2 separate regions of the Homo sapiens genome follow, and region 1 is linked to region 2. The links come from fine-mapping of genetic effects on gene expression. A gene starts in region 2. The other region holds a variant in brackets. All regions are shown on one strand. Distances are between the middles of the regions.

Region 1 (8,326 bases), 62 kb after region 2:
CAAGTGTATCGGCTTTTCTAGGGCGAGTGTGAGCTGGGTTTCTGGACTTTGCTTAAGAGCAGTGACAGACCTGGAAGATACTGCCCCAGGCACTCTTGGGTGCTTTACATGTATTGGTTCATTTAATCTTTAAACCCCACAAGTGCCCTTGGGATTCCCATTTTGCAGAGGAGGCTCAGGGTCCTTGTCACTTGCCCAAGGTCACAGTAAGTGGAAGAATAGGGAGTCTAGAGCTGTGCTCTTCGCTGCTGCCCTCCAGTTGGAAAGCTGTCCAGGCCAGGGACAGGCTTTGCAGAGAGAAGGTACAGAGGACGGGACAGGCAAATATTCAGAGACTATGAGGACTGAGGTGGTTCTGCCAACTGTGGAGGGCCTGGTCACTTGACAAGGCACCTCATTGCACCCCCCTGAGGCTCTCTCAAAGCCCCTTTTCGAGTTAGGACATTGTTATCTCCTGTGTAGTTTTTGTTGATTGCCCTCTGAAATGCTGTGAGAGGGTAGACCATCCATTCTGCCCTCGCCTGCCCAGCCCAGCACCTGGCACAGTCATTGCTCAGTGTATATTTATTGAATGAACAATTGACTGAATGTCAGGCCCAGGGCTTTGCCTTAGGAAACAGGCTGTTGGATAAGAGGTAGTACTACCATACTTTGCAATTTTTCTGGAAATTTATGTCACCTGGGAGTGGAGCAGATTACCAGGCTGTTTCCAGAGATAGCGACTCTCCATAAAGTGAGCCAACCTGGGGGCTGGGCGCAGTGGCTCACGCCTGTAACCCCAGCGCTTTGGGAGGCTGAGGCAGGCGGATCACGAGGTCAGGAATTTGAGACCAGCCTGACCAACATGGTGAAACCCCATCTCTACTAAAAAATATGTATATAAATGAGCCGGGCGTAGTGGTGCGTGCCTGTAATCCCAGCTACTCAGGAGGCTGAGGCAGTAGAATCGCTTGCACCTGGGAGGCGGAGGTTGCAGTGAGCAAAGATCGCGCCACTGCACTCCAGCCTGGGTGACAGAGCGAGACTCTGTCTTAAAACGAACAAACAAAAAAAACAAAAGTGAGCCAACCCTGGGGAGGAGTCTACGTTCAGCTGCAGGGAGCCAGGGAATTGGGGCCGAGGTGTCTGGCACAGAAAAGCTTTGGGCCTGTCTCAGGTAAATGAAGTTTTGATATAGATTCAACTCCCCTGCCCCCCACAATTGAACTGTTTTTGGGGGCCAGCAATTAGGGGCTAATTTGTGACAGTGACTTTATTTTCTTCCTACTAAAGTACTGGTTTATTCGGTGGCCTTGGTGATTAGATTTAGGCATAATAGTTAAATGTAATAGAAGTTTATGTAACAAACAGTGATTAATAATGTTGCTGTCCAGATTCCCGTTATAGCGCTAACCTGATGTTATGAACTGAGATTAAATTTGAATTTGAGTGCTTACATTATTTTGTAAAGGTGGTTGTATATTCACATATCCACAGTTTTTTCTATAAATAACGTGAAACCGTGCTTGGTTTCTCTTTTCCAAAGTTTGCCTTTTCCATTACATGGGCAAGTCCTGAACCTAAGCCGAGACACTAGTCCATCATCTCCAGCAATGAATGTCATCCCCCCAGACTTCAGCATCCTGAGTTAATTAAAAGGTGCAGATGAAGTTAATCAAGTTTGGAACTCTAATTTTGTGCAGTGTTTTGATACGATTTGATGAGTCATCTTTTGGTAGAGCACCTCTCTATCCCTGACAGTGTTTGATCTTAACGGAACAGTTTTATAATGTGTAAACTGGTGGGAGGTGCTCTTCAGAAATGCAGTCAACAGTGGTATGTGTGCGTGTTTGGCTCTTGGGGCGGGGCGGAAAGCAGAACAAAGGAGAATTTAATAAGCGAGAACTTGTCAGGGGCTAGGGTCAGTTCTGAGGCTGCTGCCTGTCAAGAACATGGCTTTCTTCCTGCCCCCCTCCACTGCTGCTAACTGGAGTCTGACCTTCGAGAAAGAGTGAAAAAAGACAGCTTCTGTTTGTTTTGCTGCAAGTAAGTGGCTGGACTGATTGGCCCCCTTCCCAGAGGCCCTGCAAGGACTTCAGATGTGGTCAGCGAGGTATGTGGATGGTGCCAGCCTGCCGGCCCTCGTCCAGCCAAACTGCACCAGGAACAGGCAAGGGTCCCAGAGAAACAGCGGGGTCAGCTGCTGCCGCCTTTGCTCCTGCTCTTAATGCTGTCCTATTTCTTCCTAAGAGGAAGCTGGTTTACTCTCTCAAGATTGATGGGCAAAGTTTTATATGACCACGGTCTCCACTTCTCACCCACTGAACTTACAGCTTGAAATTAACAGAGGCGAGGCCCATCTGGAAAAATGCATTTGACAAAAACTTGATCAAATGGGGGATCCCCTGAGGTGGGTGGCAAAGAACCAGACCACTTGGAATCCTAGGTGCTGTGTCCCTGTATGGACCTGCTGTTTCTTTTGGATTCCATTAGGGTTAAGAAGCACAAATTCTGAAGCTAGATTTGAGTTTACATTTCTGCTCCAGTACTTGGGAGTTACAGTGACCAAGTCATTTAATGTTTCTGAACTTCAGTTTCCTGATCTGTAAAGTAGGATGGGTAGGTTGGGCGTAGTGGGTCATGCCTATAATCCCAGCACTTTGGGAGGCTGAGGCAGGAGGATCACTTAAGGTCAGAAGTTCGAGACCAGCCTGGCCAACATAGTGAAGCCCCGTCACTAGTAAAAATACAAAAGTTATTTGGGCGTGGTTGTGGGCGTCTCCAGCCTGGGTGACAGAGTGAGACTCCATCTCAAAAAAAAAGAAGAAAAACAAAAACAAGTAAATAAATGAATAAAAATAAAGGAATCCAGCCATCTGTTAGTATAGCCAAAGCAGAGGATATTGCATCAAATGTTAAACGCTAGTCCTGTCAGTCACTCCTGAGAGAACAGGGCAACAAGACCCAGAAAGGGTATCAACACTGCCTGAGCAGATGGAGGCAAAGCTGTGCATGGGCTGCTTATAGGGCACAGTCTGAGGCCTTGCAGCAGTCACGTGGAAACTGAGGCTGCCTGCTTTCCAGGTGCAAGGTGATGGACAGTGGCAGGAACCCTGTGCTAGATGACTCTTGTGCGATCTTATTTCTTTGTTACTGGGACACAAGCACCAACTGTCACAAGGGACCAACAAGAGGAGGTGATTTTTTTTTTCAGCTGTTACCACAAAGCTTTTCATCTTTTGGTTTGAAAACATAGCTGTGGGAATAGGCCGGGCGCGGTGGCTCACACCTGTAATCCCAGCACTTTGGGAGGCCAAGGCGGGCCGATCACAAGGTCAGGAGATCGAGACCATCCTGGCTAACACGGTGAAACCCCGTCTATACTAAAAATACAAAAATTAGCCGGGCGTGGTGATGGCCGCCTGTAGTCCCAGCTACTCGGGAGGCTGAGGCAGGAGAATGGCGTGAACCCGGGAGGCGGAGCTTGCAGTGAGCCGAGATCGCGCCACCGCACTCCAGCCTGGGCAACAGAGCGAGACTCTGTCTCAAAAAAAAAAAAAGAAAAAAGAGAGAGAAAGAAAATATAGCTTTGGGAGCACCAAAGCCCAAAGCGTTATAGTGCCTACTATGTGTCAGGCACTATACTAAACATTTCACATGGCTTAGCACTCATGTGATCTTCACGATAACCTGGTGAGCGGGTAATTATTATCACCCTTCCTACTGGTTTGTTGTTGTTGTTGTTGTCGTCGTTGTTGTTTTGAGACAGAGTCTCGCTCTGTCACCCAGGCTAGATTGCAGTGGCACGATACCGGCTCACTGCAACCTCTGCCTCCTGGGTTTGAGCGACTCCTGCCTCAGGCTCCCGAGTAGCTGGGATTAAAAGCGTCCGCCACCATGCCCAGCTAATTTTTGTATTTTTAATAGAGATGGGGTTTTATCATCTTGGCCAGGCTGGTCTTGAACCCCTGACCTCGTGATCCACCCGCCTTGGCCTCCCAAAGTGCTGGGATTACAGGCATCAGCCACCATGCCCGGCTACTTAATTTATTTTTTGAGACAGCCTCTCTCTGTAGCCCAGACTGGAGTGCAGCGGTGTGATTTCGGCTCACCGCAACCTCTGAATCCTGGGTTCAAGCAATTCTACTGCCTCAGCCTCCCAAGTACTTGATTATAGGCACCCACCACACTTTCGGCTAATTTTCCTATTTTTAGTAGAGATGGGGTTTCACCATGTTGGCCAGGCTGGTCTCAAACTCCTGACCTCAAGTGATCTGCCCACCTTAGCCTCCCAAAGTGCTGGGGTTACAGGTGTGAGCCACTGCACCTGGCCTCCTTTATTTTATGGGACATTTTTTGAAAAGAGGCTTGGTCCAAACAGGCAGTACTTGCCACTTCTGCAGTCATTTCTCTACCCTGCCCCAAAATGGTTACTCAGTTGCATTTATTTACTACAATCGGAATACCAGCAGGACATCTACAAAAGTAGAAGTATTGGGTGGTAGCAGATCAGTGCTCTCTGGCATCCAGATCGTCTAGATGGTCACAGCCTTTTTTTTTTTTTTTTTGGAGACAGAGTCTTGCTCTGTCGCCCAGGCTGGAGTGCAGTGGCACAATCTCGGCTCACTGCAACCTCCACCTCCCGGGTTCAAGAGATTCTCCTGCCTCAGCCTCCCGAGTAGCTGAGATTACAGGCACCCACCACCATGCACGGCTAATTTTTTTGGTATTTTTAGTAGAGATGGGGTTTCGCTGTGTTGGCCAGGCTGGTCTTGAACTCCTGACCTCAGGTGATCCACCTGCCTCAGCCTCTGAAAGTGCTGGGATTACAGGCATGAGCCACCACACCTGGCCAATTGTTA[C/T]AGCTTTGAGTTGACTGCCAAGTGTTGAGGTAGCATTGAGGGTTGCAGAAGCTGTGTTCTTGAAAAAGAGAAGAGAGTAACATTCTCAGAAAGCAAACAGTATTCAGAAGAGTCAATGGGTGTTCTGGAGCTTTTTTCTTTTCTTTCCTTTTTTTTTTTAAAGAAATTACCAGCTGGGTGCTGTGGCTCACGCCTGTAATTCCAGCACTTTGGGGGGCCAAGGTGGGAGGATCACCTGAGGTCAGGAACTTGAGACCAGGAATTTTTCTATTTTTAGTGAAACCCCATCTCTACTAAAAATACAAAAAATTAGCTGGGTGTGGCTGCAGGCACCTGTAATCCCCAGTTACTTGGCAGGTTGAGGCAGGAGAATGGCTTGAACCCGGGAGGTGGAGGTTGCATTGAGCCGAGATCACGCCATTGCACTCCAGCCTGGGCAACAGAGCAAGATTGTCTCAAAAAAAAAAAAAAAGAAAGAAAAGAAAAAGAAAAAGAAATTACCTCTTCTCTGATATGCAGAGCCCCGTCTATACTGGACAGGTGGAAGTTACCAGAGAAATACAGGCCAGGGGCCTTTGTCTGACATTGGCACTGAGAAAAGCATAGCCCAGAAGCAGGGTGTGTCTTTTTTTTTTACCTGGGCATCTGTGGTTTGAGATCTTCTTGGAACACTTTATAACCCATTTCTGAACGTCTCCCAGGCTTCAGTGGAGCCACCTGTTGTAGCTTCTAAAACTGTGTCCTCCTCAGTTGTTCTCCCACCCATTGCCTTCACAGATGCAGAGACCAAGATTCACTCACTCGCCATTGGACCTTTAGCACCCAGGTCTGTCTGGCACAAAGTAAGTGCCAGGCTGGTGGAGTGAATGAATTCTACTTAGAGAATGGCCCTCAACACAGGCTGCTCATTACCAAAACTATTTGGTCTTTAAAAAGTGTGACTCTGATGCTTCAGTCTGGGGTGGGTACCAAATACTTGTATTTTTTAAAGAGCCTCACAGCAACTTGAATTTACCTTAATTTTTATGTAGGAACCCTTGTCCTGGTAGAGAGTATAATTTGCTGAATAAGTCTACTTTTTCAATCAACATATACGGAAGAGATATCAATGAAAGAACTGACAAACTGTAAAGCCCCCTCTCCAGGTGTAAAGCACTCAGGGCTTGGGCCTAGAAGCTGATCCATGTCTCTGTGTCTGTTCTGAAATAGCCTGTGTGATGTGGGAGAAAGAGTATTGTCCTTAGAGACAAGGCTCGAGACTGGCTGTGCCCTTTCCTTGGGCAGTATGTAGGGAACAAGAATGCCTGCCCGCCCGCAGGCAGGTTACCTGTGGACAAGGTGTAGTGGGCAGTTAGAAGGTGTTGGTATGTTAATCAGTCTTTTTTTTTTTTTTTTTTTTGAGATGGAGTTACGCTCTATCGCACAGGCAAAGTGCAGTGGCGCGATCTCAGCTCACTGCAACCTCCCAGGTTCAAGTGATTCTTCTGCTTCAGCCTCCCAAGTACCTGGGACTACAGGCGTGCGCCACCACGCCTGGCTAATTTATGTATTTTTTTAGTAGAGACGGGGTTTCACCATGTTGGCCAGGCTGGTCTCTAACTTCTGACCTCGTGATCTGCCTGCCTCGGCCTCCCAAAGTGCTGGGATTACAGACGTTACAGACGTGAGCCACCACACCTGGCCAGTCTTTTTTTTTTTTTTTCTGAGATGAAGTCTCACTCTGTTGCCCAGGCTGGAGTTCAGTGGCACGATCTCGGCTCACTGCAACCTCTGCCTCCCGGGTTCAAGCGATTCTCCTGCCTCAGCCTCCTGACTAAGTGGGACTACAGGTGCCTGCCACCACGCCTGGCTAATTTTTGTATTTTTAGTAGAGACCGGGTTTCACCATGTTGGCCAGGTTGGTCTCGAACTCCTGACCTCAGATGATCCACCCGCCTTGGCCTCCCAAAATGCTTGGATTACAGGCGTGAGCCACTGCACCCAGCCTAATTAGTCTTTTGCTCCTATTTGTCTTTATTTGGGATAAAAGTTATAGCCTTGTTGGGGTCTTCTTACACAGTAGTTCTGACTCACAGCCATCATCTGAACCTTTCCTCTGGTTCACAACCAAAATTAAACATCCATTTATGGGGATTGAGATAGTTTTCATAGTAAAGGAAGTTTTGTTTGTAATGACCTTCCTGTTTGATGGGTCTAAGTATATGGCTGGCCCTTCTGGCTAAAGCAGGCTTTAAACTGGTCCTGCCTAGAATGTGTACCTCCCACTCCTTATCATCTCTCTTCTAGGTCCCTTCCCCTTTCCCTTTCCCTTCCCCTTCCCCTTCGCTTCTTCCTTCCCTTTGTTCCTTTTCCTTTCCTTTTTTTCTTCTTTTTTTTTTTTTTTTTTTGACAGGGTCTCACTCTGTCACCCAGGCTGGAGTGCAGTGATGAGATCTCTGCTCATGTAGCCTTGACCTTCTGGGCTCAAGTGATCTTCTGCCTTGGCCTCCTTAGTAGCTGGGACTACAGGCACCACCATACTTGGCTAAATTTTTTTTTTTTTTTTGGTAGCAGTGAGGTCTCACTATGTTGCCCAGGATTATCTCAAACTCCTGGGCTCAAGCGATCCTCACGCCTTGGCCCCCCAAAGTGTTGGGATTGCAGATGTGTGCCATCACACTCTGCCTCTTCCGGGTCTTTTTTTTTTTTTTTTTCCCAGACGGAGTCTCGCTCTGTTGCCCAGGCTGGAGTGCAGTGGCACGATCTTGGCTCACTGCAACCTCTGCCTCCTGGGTTCAAGCGATTCTCCTGCCTCAGCCTTCCGAGTAGCTGGGATTATAGGTGCCTGGCTAATTTTTTTTATATTTTTAGTAGAGACGGGGTTTCACCATGTTGGTCAGGCTGGTCTCAAACTCCTGACCTCGTGATCCTCCCACCTCGGCCTCCCAAAGTGCTGGGATTACAGGCGTGAGCCACCGCGCCTGGCTTTTTTTTTTTTTTTTTTTTTTTTTTTTTTTTTTAATTTTACTTTTTTGAGACGGAGTCTCACTCTGTCACCCAGGCTAGATTGCAGTGGCACAATCTTGGTTCACTGCAACTTCCGCCTGCTGGATTCAAGTGATTCTCCTGCTTCAGTCTCCCAAGTAGCTGGGACTACAGGCACGTGTCACCACACCTGGCTAATTTTTGTATTTTTAGTAGAGACAGGGTTTCACTATGTTGGCCAGGCTGGTCTCGAACTCCTGACCTTGTGATCCACCTGCCTCGGCCTCCCAAAGTGCTGGGGTTACAGCTGTGAGCCACCGCACCCGGCTCTTCCAGGTCTTAATAGAGCCTTTTTCCTCTACTGAAAGCTTCCACTGCTTTCTGCCCCCTTCAAACTCATATATACTTCATTGAATTGTTTCCTCGGGGAAGCCTTCCTGATACCACCCTACAGAGGGTGTCAGACGCCCTATTATGCTGTCACAGCACTTTTCACAGTAAGGTAAATTGCTTTTATAATT
Region 2 (8,326 bases):
TTGTATTTTTAGTAGAGACAGGGTTTCACCATGTTGACCAGCATGGTCTCAATCTCCTGACCTTGTGATCCACCTGCCTCGGCCTCCCAAAGTGCTGGGATTATAGGTGTGAGCCCCCGGGCCCAGCCAATAAAAATGTTTTTTTAAAAGGATGCATATTTCCAAACATGAGACTATACCATCACATTTAATTTTTCCCAGAAACTATAAAAAGTAGAAGTGAAGAGAGGAAAGGGAGACACTTTTAGACCTTCAATGAGTCTGCAAGTACAGGAGAAAATAATTTATGCAGCAATTAGCTTTATTTTCAGGGCTCTTTTTCTTTTCTTTTTTTTTTGTTGAGACGGAGTCTCGCTCTTTTGCCCAGGCCGGAGTGCAGTGGCGCTATCTTGGCTCAGTGCAAGCTCTGCCTCCTGGGTTCATACCATTTTCCTGCCTCAGCCTCCCGAGTAGCTGGGACTACAGGCACCCGCCACCATGCCCAGCTAATTTTTTGTATTTTTAGTAGACACGGGGTTTCACCGTGTTAGCCAGGATGGTCTCGATCTCCTGACCTCATGATCCGCCCGCCTCTGCCTCCCAAAGTGCTGGGATTACACGCGTGAGCCACCGCGCCTGGCCAACAAAGTGATCATTTTACAAGAGTTATGGCATAGTCACAGGTAAGAACCTGGGTCACTGGGTCACTCCCTAACCAATTACGAATTACTATATGCCATGGACCTTCAGGATTACTTTCTTTTTTGTTTTGTTTTTGTTTTTTTTTTTGAGACAGAGTCTCGCTCTGTCACCCAGACCGGGGTGCAGTGGCGCGATCTCAGCTCACTGCAACCTCTGCCTCCCGGATTCAAGCAATTCTCCTGCCTCAGCCTCCCGAGTAGCTGGGATTACAGGCATGTGCCACCACGCCTGGCTAATTTTTTTGTATTTTTAGTAGAGACCGGGTTTCACCATATTGGCCAGGCTGGTCTCGAACTCCTGACCTTGTGATCCACCCACCTTGACCTCCCAAAGTCCTGGGATTACAGGCGTGAGCCACCGCGCCCAGCCCAGGATTACTTTCTTTCTTTCTTTTGAGACAGAGTTTTGCTCTTGTTGCCCAGGCTGGAGTGCAATGGCACAATCTCGGATCACTGCAACCTCCACCTCTCAGGTTCAAGCGATTCTCCTGCCTCAGCCTCCCAAGTAGCTGGGATTACAGGCATGCGGCACCATGCCTAAAATTTTGTATTTTTAGTAGAGATGGGGTTTCTCCACTTTGGTCAGGATGGTCTCGAACTCCCGACCTCAGGTGATCCGCCCGCCTCGGCCTCCCAAAGTGCTGGTATTACAGGCATGAGCCACCGTGCCTGGCCTCTATTTTTCTTTCTATAATCCATGTACATTTTCCTTTAATAATATAAGGCAACTAAACAGCACTTTATTTTCAGAGGCTTATCTAAAAGATACTTGACACAGCCCTTTGCAGCTGGGTCATTCTCTGAATTCTAAATGTCGTTTCCTGCACAAAGTGGTTATTTGATCTTGTAACTGGCATTTTCCCCGGAGATTAGGAAGTGGCACACCAAAGTGCAAAAAACTTTGGAATCAGAACTTTAATTTTTAATCTTTATTTTATTTATTTATTTATTTTTGTGACAGAGTCTCGCTCTGTTGCCCAGGCTAGAGTGCAATGGCAAGATCTCCACTCACTACAAACTCCACCTCCCGGGTTCAAGTGATTCTCCGCCTTCAGCCTCCTGGGTAGCTGGGATCACAGGCGCACACCACCACACTCGGCTAATTTTTGTATTTTGAGTAGAGATGGGGTTTCACCATGTTGGCCAGGCTGGTCTCTAACTCCTGACCTCAGGTGATCCTCCCGTCCATGCCTCCCAAAGTGCTGGGATTACAGGTATGAGTCACTGTGCCCGGCCTAATTTTTATATTTTTTTGTAGAGACGGGGTCTGGCTGTGTTTGACAGCCTCAAACTCCTGGCCTCAAGTGATCCTCTCAAAGTGTTGGGATTACAGACATGAGCCACAGTGCCTGGCCTATTGAAAGCTTTTCCATCATAATAGGTCCTTCCCCCCAATGCTTGCAGCAAGTCAATAGTAGGAGACCCCAGGTTGCAGCAGAGAAAGAGGTTTAATCATAGGGGCCACTGAAAACCAAGAGAGGAGATGGAAGGAACCACGAATCCACTTCCCCAGGGAGTTCGGGGCTTTTTAAGGGTTTTGGAGTGGGTTGAAGTGTGGAGGTCATTGGTTGGTTGAAGTGTGCAGGGTGAAGTAATGAAACAGGGAGTTGAAGAAACTCTATTCTCCTGTCGATTTGGTTCCTCTGCGGGGTCTTCACACTGGTTGGTATCAGCTGTTTTGCTGGAATTCAGGATCTGAAAAATATCTTAAGCTTTTTTTTTTTTTTTTTTTTTTTTGAGACAAGGTCTGTTGTCCAGGCTGGAGTGCAGTGGTGCCATCATAGCTCATTGCAGCCTCTAACGCCTGGGCTCAAAGGATCCTTCCACCTTAGCCTCCCAAGTAGCTGGGATTACAGGCACGCACCACCACACCCAGCTAATTAAAAAATTTTTTTTTTTGTAGAGACAGGGGTCTTGTCATGTTGCCCAGGCTGGTCATGAACTCCTGACTTCAAGTGATTTTCCTATCTCAGTCTCCTAAAGCGCATGGATTACAGGCATGAGCCACCATGCCGGGCGCTAAGCAATTCTTATTATTTATTTATTTATTTATTTATTTATTTTTTTCTGAGACGGAGTCTTGCTCTGTTGCCCAGGCTGGAGTGCAGTGGCGCGAACTCGGCTCACTGCAAGCTCCATCTCCCAGGTTCATGCTATTCTCTTGCCTCAGCCTCCTCAGTAGCTGGGACTACATGCGCCTGCCACCACGCCCGGCTAATTTTTTGTAGTTTTAGTAGAGACAAGGTTTCACCATGTTAGCCAGGCTGATCTCGAACTCCTGACCTCGTGATCCGCCCACCTCTGCCTCCCAAAATGCTGGGATTACAGGCGTGAGCCACCACCTCCGGCCTAAGCAATTCTTAAATAAAAATCTATGATTCCGCCAGGCATGGTGGCTCACACCTGTAATCCGTGCACTTTGGGAGGCCGAGGCGGGTGGATCACAAGTTCAGGAGTTCGAGACCAGCCTGGCCAACATGGTGCAATCCCTGTCTCTACTAAAAATACAAAAGTTAGGTGGGCATGGTGGCTTTTTTTTTTTTTTTTTTAGACGGGAGTCTCTGTCATCCATGCTGGAGTGCAGTGGCAGGATCTTGGCTCACTGCAACCTCTGCCTCCCAGGTTCAAGCGATTCTCCGGCCTCAGCCTCCCAATTGGCTGAGACTACAGGCGTGTGCCACCACGCCCGGCTAATTTTTTAGTATTAGTAGAGATGGGGGTTTCACCATCTTGGCCGGGCTGGTCTCGAACTCCTGACTTCGTGATCTGCCCTCCCTGGCGTCCCAAAGTGCTGGGATTACAGGCATGAGCCACTGTGCCCTGCCAAAAAGCCTATGATTCTAACATCAGAAATCCTTCCACCTCAGCCTCCCACGTAGCTGGGACTATAGACTCAGTACCACCACACCAAGCTAATTTTTGTATTTTTAATAGAGATAGCGTTTCCCTATATTGACCACCTGGGGCCATCCCTGGTTTTTTTTTTTTTTCCCTTCCTTCCTTCCTTTCCCTCTCTCTTTCCCTCCCTCCTTCCTTCCTTTCTTTCTTTCTTTCTTTTTTTTTTTTTTTTACAGAGTCTTGCTCTGTTACCCAGGTTGGAGTGCAGAGGCATGATCTTGGCTTACTACAACCTCCGCCTCCCGGATTCAAGCAATTATCCTACCTCAGCCTTCCAAGTAGCTGGGACTACAAGTGTGAGCCACCATGCCCTGCTAATTTTTTTATTTTTACTAAAGACGGGATTTCACCACATTAGCCAGGCTGGTCTCCAACTCCTGATTTAAAGTAATCTGCCTGCCTTGGCCTTCCGAAGTGCTGAGATTACAGGTGCGAGTCACCGTGCCTGGCCTATTCCTGTTTTCTTAACGCTCCTCTCTCCCACTGGGCCGTGACTGCCTCTAAGGCAGAGATGTGTTCATTTTTATTATTATTGTATGTCCAGGGCTGGGCACAAAGTGCAACACATAGTAGGGACATGAAAGGCTGGGCACAGTGGCTCATGGTTGTAATCCCAGCACTTTGGGAGGCAGAGGCGGGAGGATGGCTTGAGGCCAGGAGTTGGAGACCAGCCTAGGCAACAGAGGGACCCCATCTCTATGAAAAAAAAAAAAAAAAATTGACAGTTCAATGTCACCTCTGATAAGCCTTCCCTGACCACCCCTGTTACTCTGTAGCCCCATGTCCTGCTTTATTTTTCTCCAAAGCATTTATCATCGCTGGGTTTATATTTATTTCTCTTCGGGCTTTTCTCACTGGATCGTAAACTCCATGAGGACAGGGCTTTGTCGATTTCACTCAATACCGTTATTTTACAACATCCCTATTGCTGGGATCTCAGTATGCACTCCTTAAATATTTGCAGAATTTAAGTGCCACATAAGTGACCACGTGGGCAACGCCCTCGGGGCCTTAAGCCGCGCCATTTTTGGGGCTAGGATTGGTTGGACCCTCCGTCACGTGACATGCAGTCGCCGGATCGCCTTTGAGTCTCGTGAGGTACTTTTGGTCCCAGGCTCCGCGGACGAGGTACTGCGCAGGCGTGGGAGGGTCTGCGCATGCGCAGAAGCACTCCGGGCGTGCTGCCGGCGGCGGTAGGTGGCGCGCGGGTCCGGCGGGCGGTTGGCTTGAGCGGGACCGGAGCTGAGGCAGGAAGAGCCGGCGCCATGGTGGAGAAGGAGGAGGCTGGCGGCGGCATTAGCGAGGAGGAGGCGGCACAGTATGACCGGCAGATCCGCCTGTGGGGACTGGAGGCCCAGAAACGGTCAGGGCCGGCGCGGCTTGAGGCCGCTAGGGTCTGGAGGGGGCGTCTATTCTGAGGCGTTTGCGGCCCGGAAGGAGCGGGAAGGTGTGATTTGAAGGGAGGAGGCGGGAATTCTGTGCTCTGGGATCGTCTCTCTCTTGGGGGGACTGGAGGAGTTGATTGGGGATGTTTCTGGAAGGTCTGGGAAGTGGTTGGGAGGGCCGTTCCGAAGGATGGGAGCTCTGAAGGGGGCGTTGGGGAGTCCTGAGAGAGCGGGAGAATTCAAACTCAGGAAATCCGAGGCCCGAAAGCGGTGATTGTGGGGTTTGATCGCGGTTAGGGGATAAGAGGGGCTGGGGATACGTGGAAAGGGTGAGGTGAGGGACGCAGTTCATTCATTCGAGGGTATGGGACCTGGTTCCGTGCTGCACACAGGGGAGACTGGACTGGCCAACCGGACAGACGGGAGCTTACACTCTTGTGGGAGCTCACGGGCGGGCCAGTCTGAGAGAATGCGGGTTTTGAGGAGTTTTGGAGCAAGTTATCTCAAATGGGAATCTTGAGAGGCTCGGAGAGGCTGGAGGGGGACGGCCGTAGGCTCCCGAAAAGGTTGCTTGTGTTTGGTATGGGGCTGTGTCTTGATAGGACAGGAGACGTAGTTTGGGCATTGTGGAGTAGCTTAGGGAATTCTTTTTTTTTTTTTTTTTTTTTTTGAGATAGTCTCTCTCTGTCGCCCAGGCTGGAGGGCAGTGGCGCGATCTCGGCTCACTGCAACCTCTGCCTCCCGGATTCAAGCGATTCTCCTAACTCAGCCTCCCGAGTAGCTGGGATTATAGGGGCCCGCCAGCACGCCCGGCTAATTTTTGTATTTTTAGTAGACACGGGGTTTCGCCATATTGACGAGACTGGTCTCGATCTCCTTACCTCAAGTGATCCACCCGCCTCGGCCTCCTGAAGTGCTGGGATTACAGGAGTGAGCCACCGCGCCAGGACGTCTTTTGTTTTGTGCAGTTGGGTGACCTCGGTTCACTGCAGCCTCTGGCCTCCCGGGTTCAAGACTTCCTCTCACCTCAGTCTTCTGAGTAGCTGGGATTACAGGCTCGCGCCACCATGCCTGGCTAATTTTTGTATTTTTAGTAGACATGGGTTTTCACCATGTTGGCCAGGCTGGTCTCAAACTCCGGACCTCAAGTGATCTGCCCGCCACAGCCTCCCAAAGTGGTTGGATTACAGACGTGAGCCACTGTGCCCAGCTTGTTTTTTTTTTTTTTCTTTCTCTGTGGCCCAGTGGAGTGCAGTGGTGGGATCACAGCTCACTGTAGCCTCAACCTCCAAGGCTCAAGGGATATTCCCTCTTCAGCCTCCCAAGTAGCTGGGACTACAGGCGTGCCCCACCACATCATCCGACTAATTTTTGTTTTTTTTTTTTTTTGTAGGATGGGGTTTTGCCATGTTGCCCAGACTGGTCTTGAACTCCCAAGCTCAAGCGATCCTCGGCCTCAAGAGATCTCCCCCCATCTCAGACTCCTAAAATGCTGGGATTACAGGCATGAGCTACCATGCCTGGCCTCATTGATCAATATTTTTACTTAGCCTGGACGCAGTGACTCACACCTGTAATCCCAGCACTTTGGGAAGCTGAGTTGGGGGGAGGGGACCTCTTGAGCCCAGGAGTTTGAGACTAGCCTGGGTAATGTTGCCAAACCCAGTCTCTACAAAAAAATACAAAAATTAGCCAGGCATGGTGACATAAGTTTATAGTCCCAGCTTGTCAGGAGACTGAGGTGGGAGCATCACCTGAGCCCCTGGGAGGTGGAGGTTGCAGTGAGCCATGATCACACCACTACACCCCAGCCTGGGTGACAGAGTGAGGCCCCGTCTCAAAAAAAAAAAAAAAATCCACAAGCGTGTGTATATGTGTCAGTTATTAAAGGATGGTGAAGTGAGAGGGTTGTTTTGATAGGTTGGCCAGGGAAGGGCTCTGAAGAGGTAACATTGAGCCTCAGACTTATATGGGAAAGAGCCCTGTGGTCATCTGGGAGAACTTTCCTAGCTAAGAGAACAGCAAGTGCAAATTCCCAGAGGCCCAGGCATGATTGTCAAATTAGAGAAATAAGGTGGCAGGAACCAAATGATTTGAGGAGTAGCTTTTATTCTAAGTGTGTGGGAAAACCTGTTGGAGTGTTTTGAGTGTGGGAGTAACATGATCTGTTTTTTGTTTGTTTTTTGAGACGGAGTCTTGCTCTGTGGCCCAGGCTGGAGTGCAATGGCACGATCTCGGCTCACTGCCATTGCAGTGAATCCGCCTCCCAGGTTCAAGCGATTCTCCTGCCTCACCTTCCTGAGTAGCTGGGACTATCGGCATGTGCCACAACACCCGGCTAATCTTGAGTATTTTTAGTAGAGACGGGGTTTCACCATGTTAGACAGGATAGTCTCGATCTCCTGACCTCGTGATCCGCCTGCCTTGGGCTCCCAAAGTGCTGTGATTACAGGCGTGAGCCACTGCGGCCTGGCCTGGTTTGTGTTTTAAAATGATCGCTCCAGAATAGGTTAAAGTGGTCAGAAATGGAAGTAAAGATTCTGGCTGGACTGTTGCAGTAATCCAGTTGAGATAAAAATATTGGTGGCTTGAAACTCAAGAGAAGGGGTCAAATAAATATATTCTGGATATATTTTGAAGGTAGAAGAGGGAACAGAATTTGGGGCAGAAGTCCAGGATGACACCACTGTTTTTGGCTTGAGCACCTACCTGGAACGATGGAATTGCCATTTTGAAAGATATGGAGAGCTGTAGGTTTGGTGGGGTCGGGGAAGAGTCAGTTCTCTTTTAGGTTTCAGATTTGTTTTTTTTGTTTGTTTTTTTTTTTTTTGAGACGGAGTCTCACTCTGTCGCCCAGGCTGGAGTGCAGTGGCATGGTCTCGGCTCACTGCAACCTCTGCCTCCCAGGTTCAAGCAATTCTCCTGCCTCAGCCTCCCGAGTAGCTGGGATTACAGGCGCCCGCCACCATGCCCAGCTAATTTTTGTATTTTTAGTAGAGACGGAGTTTCACCGTGTTGGTCAGGCTGGTGTTGAACCCCTGACCTCGTGATCCACCTGCCTCGGCCTCCCAAAGTGCTGGGATTACAGGTGTGAGCCACCATGCCCGGCCTCAGATTTGTTTTTTTATACAACTAAGTAGAAATATGTGAGGGGTTGAGTTCAGAGGTAAAATTTGGGTGATGGTGGGTATTGTGTGAGTACAGAGTATAGAATTAATGGAGGGGTTGGGGAGGCAGACACGTCAGGAGAATTTAGTTTGAGGGGGTGGGAGCTTTCAGAAGGTTTTAGAGGGTGCAGTGGTGGGATGGGAATTACCTCAGGCTCATTTCAGATCTGTGGGGTCTTCTTTGATGGGGTGGGGG

What was found. PIP is the estimated chance that this variant, and not a neighbour inherited with it, causes the effect.
Region 1: its variant is the best candidate, but not a certain one, in a credible set for the expression of SAE1 in whole blood (INTERVAL, PIP 0.50).

The regions. Positions count from the first base shown.
Region 1 is chr19:47,188,528-47,196,853 of GRCh38, forward strand. All of the region lies in intron 6 of SAE1 (SUMO1 activating enzyme subunit 1), which reads left to right. Among named protein-coding and RNA genes, the nearest start is that of MIR3190, 34 kb to the right of the region's middle. RefSeq lists an enhancer at 563-1,329. The variant C/T (reference allele first, on the strand shown) is at 4,842.
Region 2 is chr19:47,126,088-47,134,413 of GRCh38, forward strand. SAE1 (SUMO1 activating enzyme subunit 1) reads left to right here and starts at 4,748. Exons shown (of 9, transcript NM_005500.3): 1 at 4,748-4,941. The coding sequence starts at 4,844. RefSeq lists enhancers at 4,522-5,136, 4,829-5,068.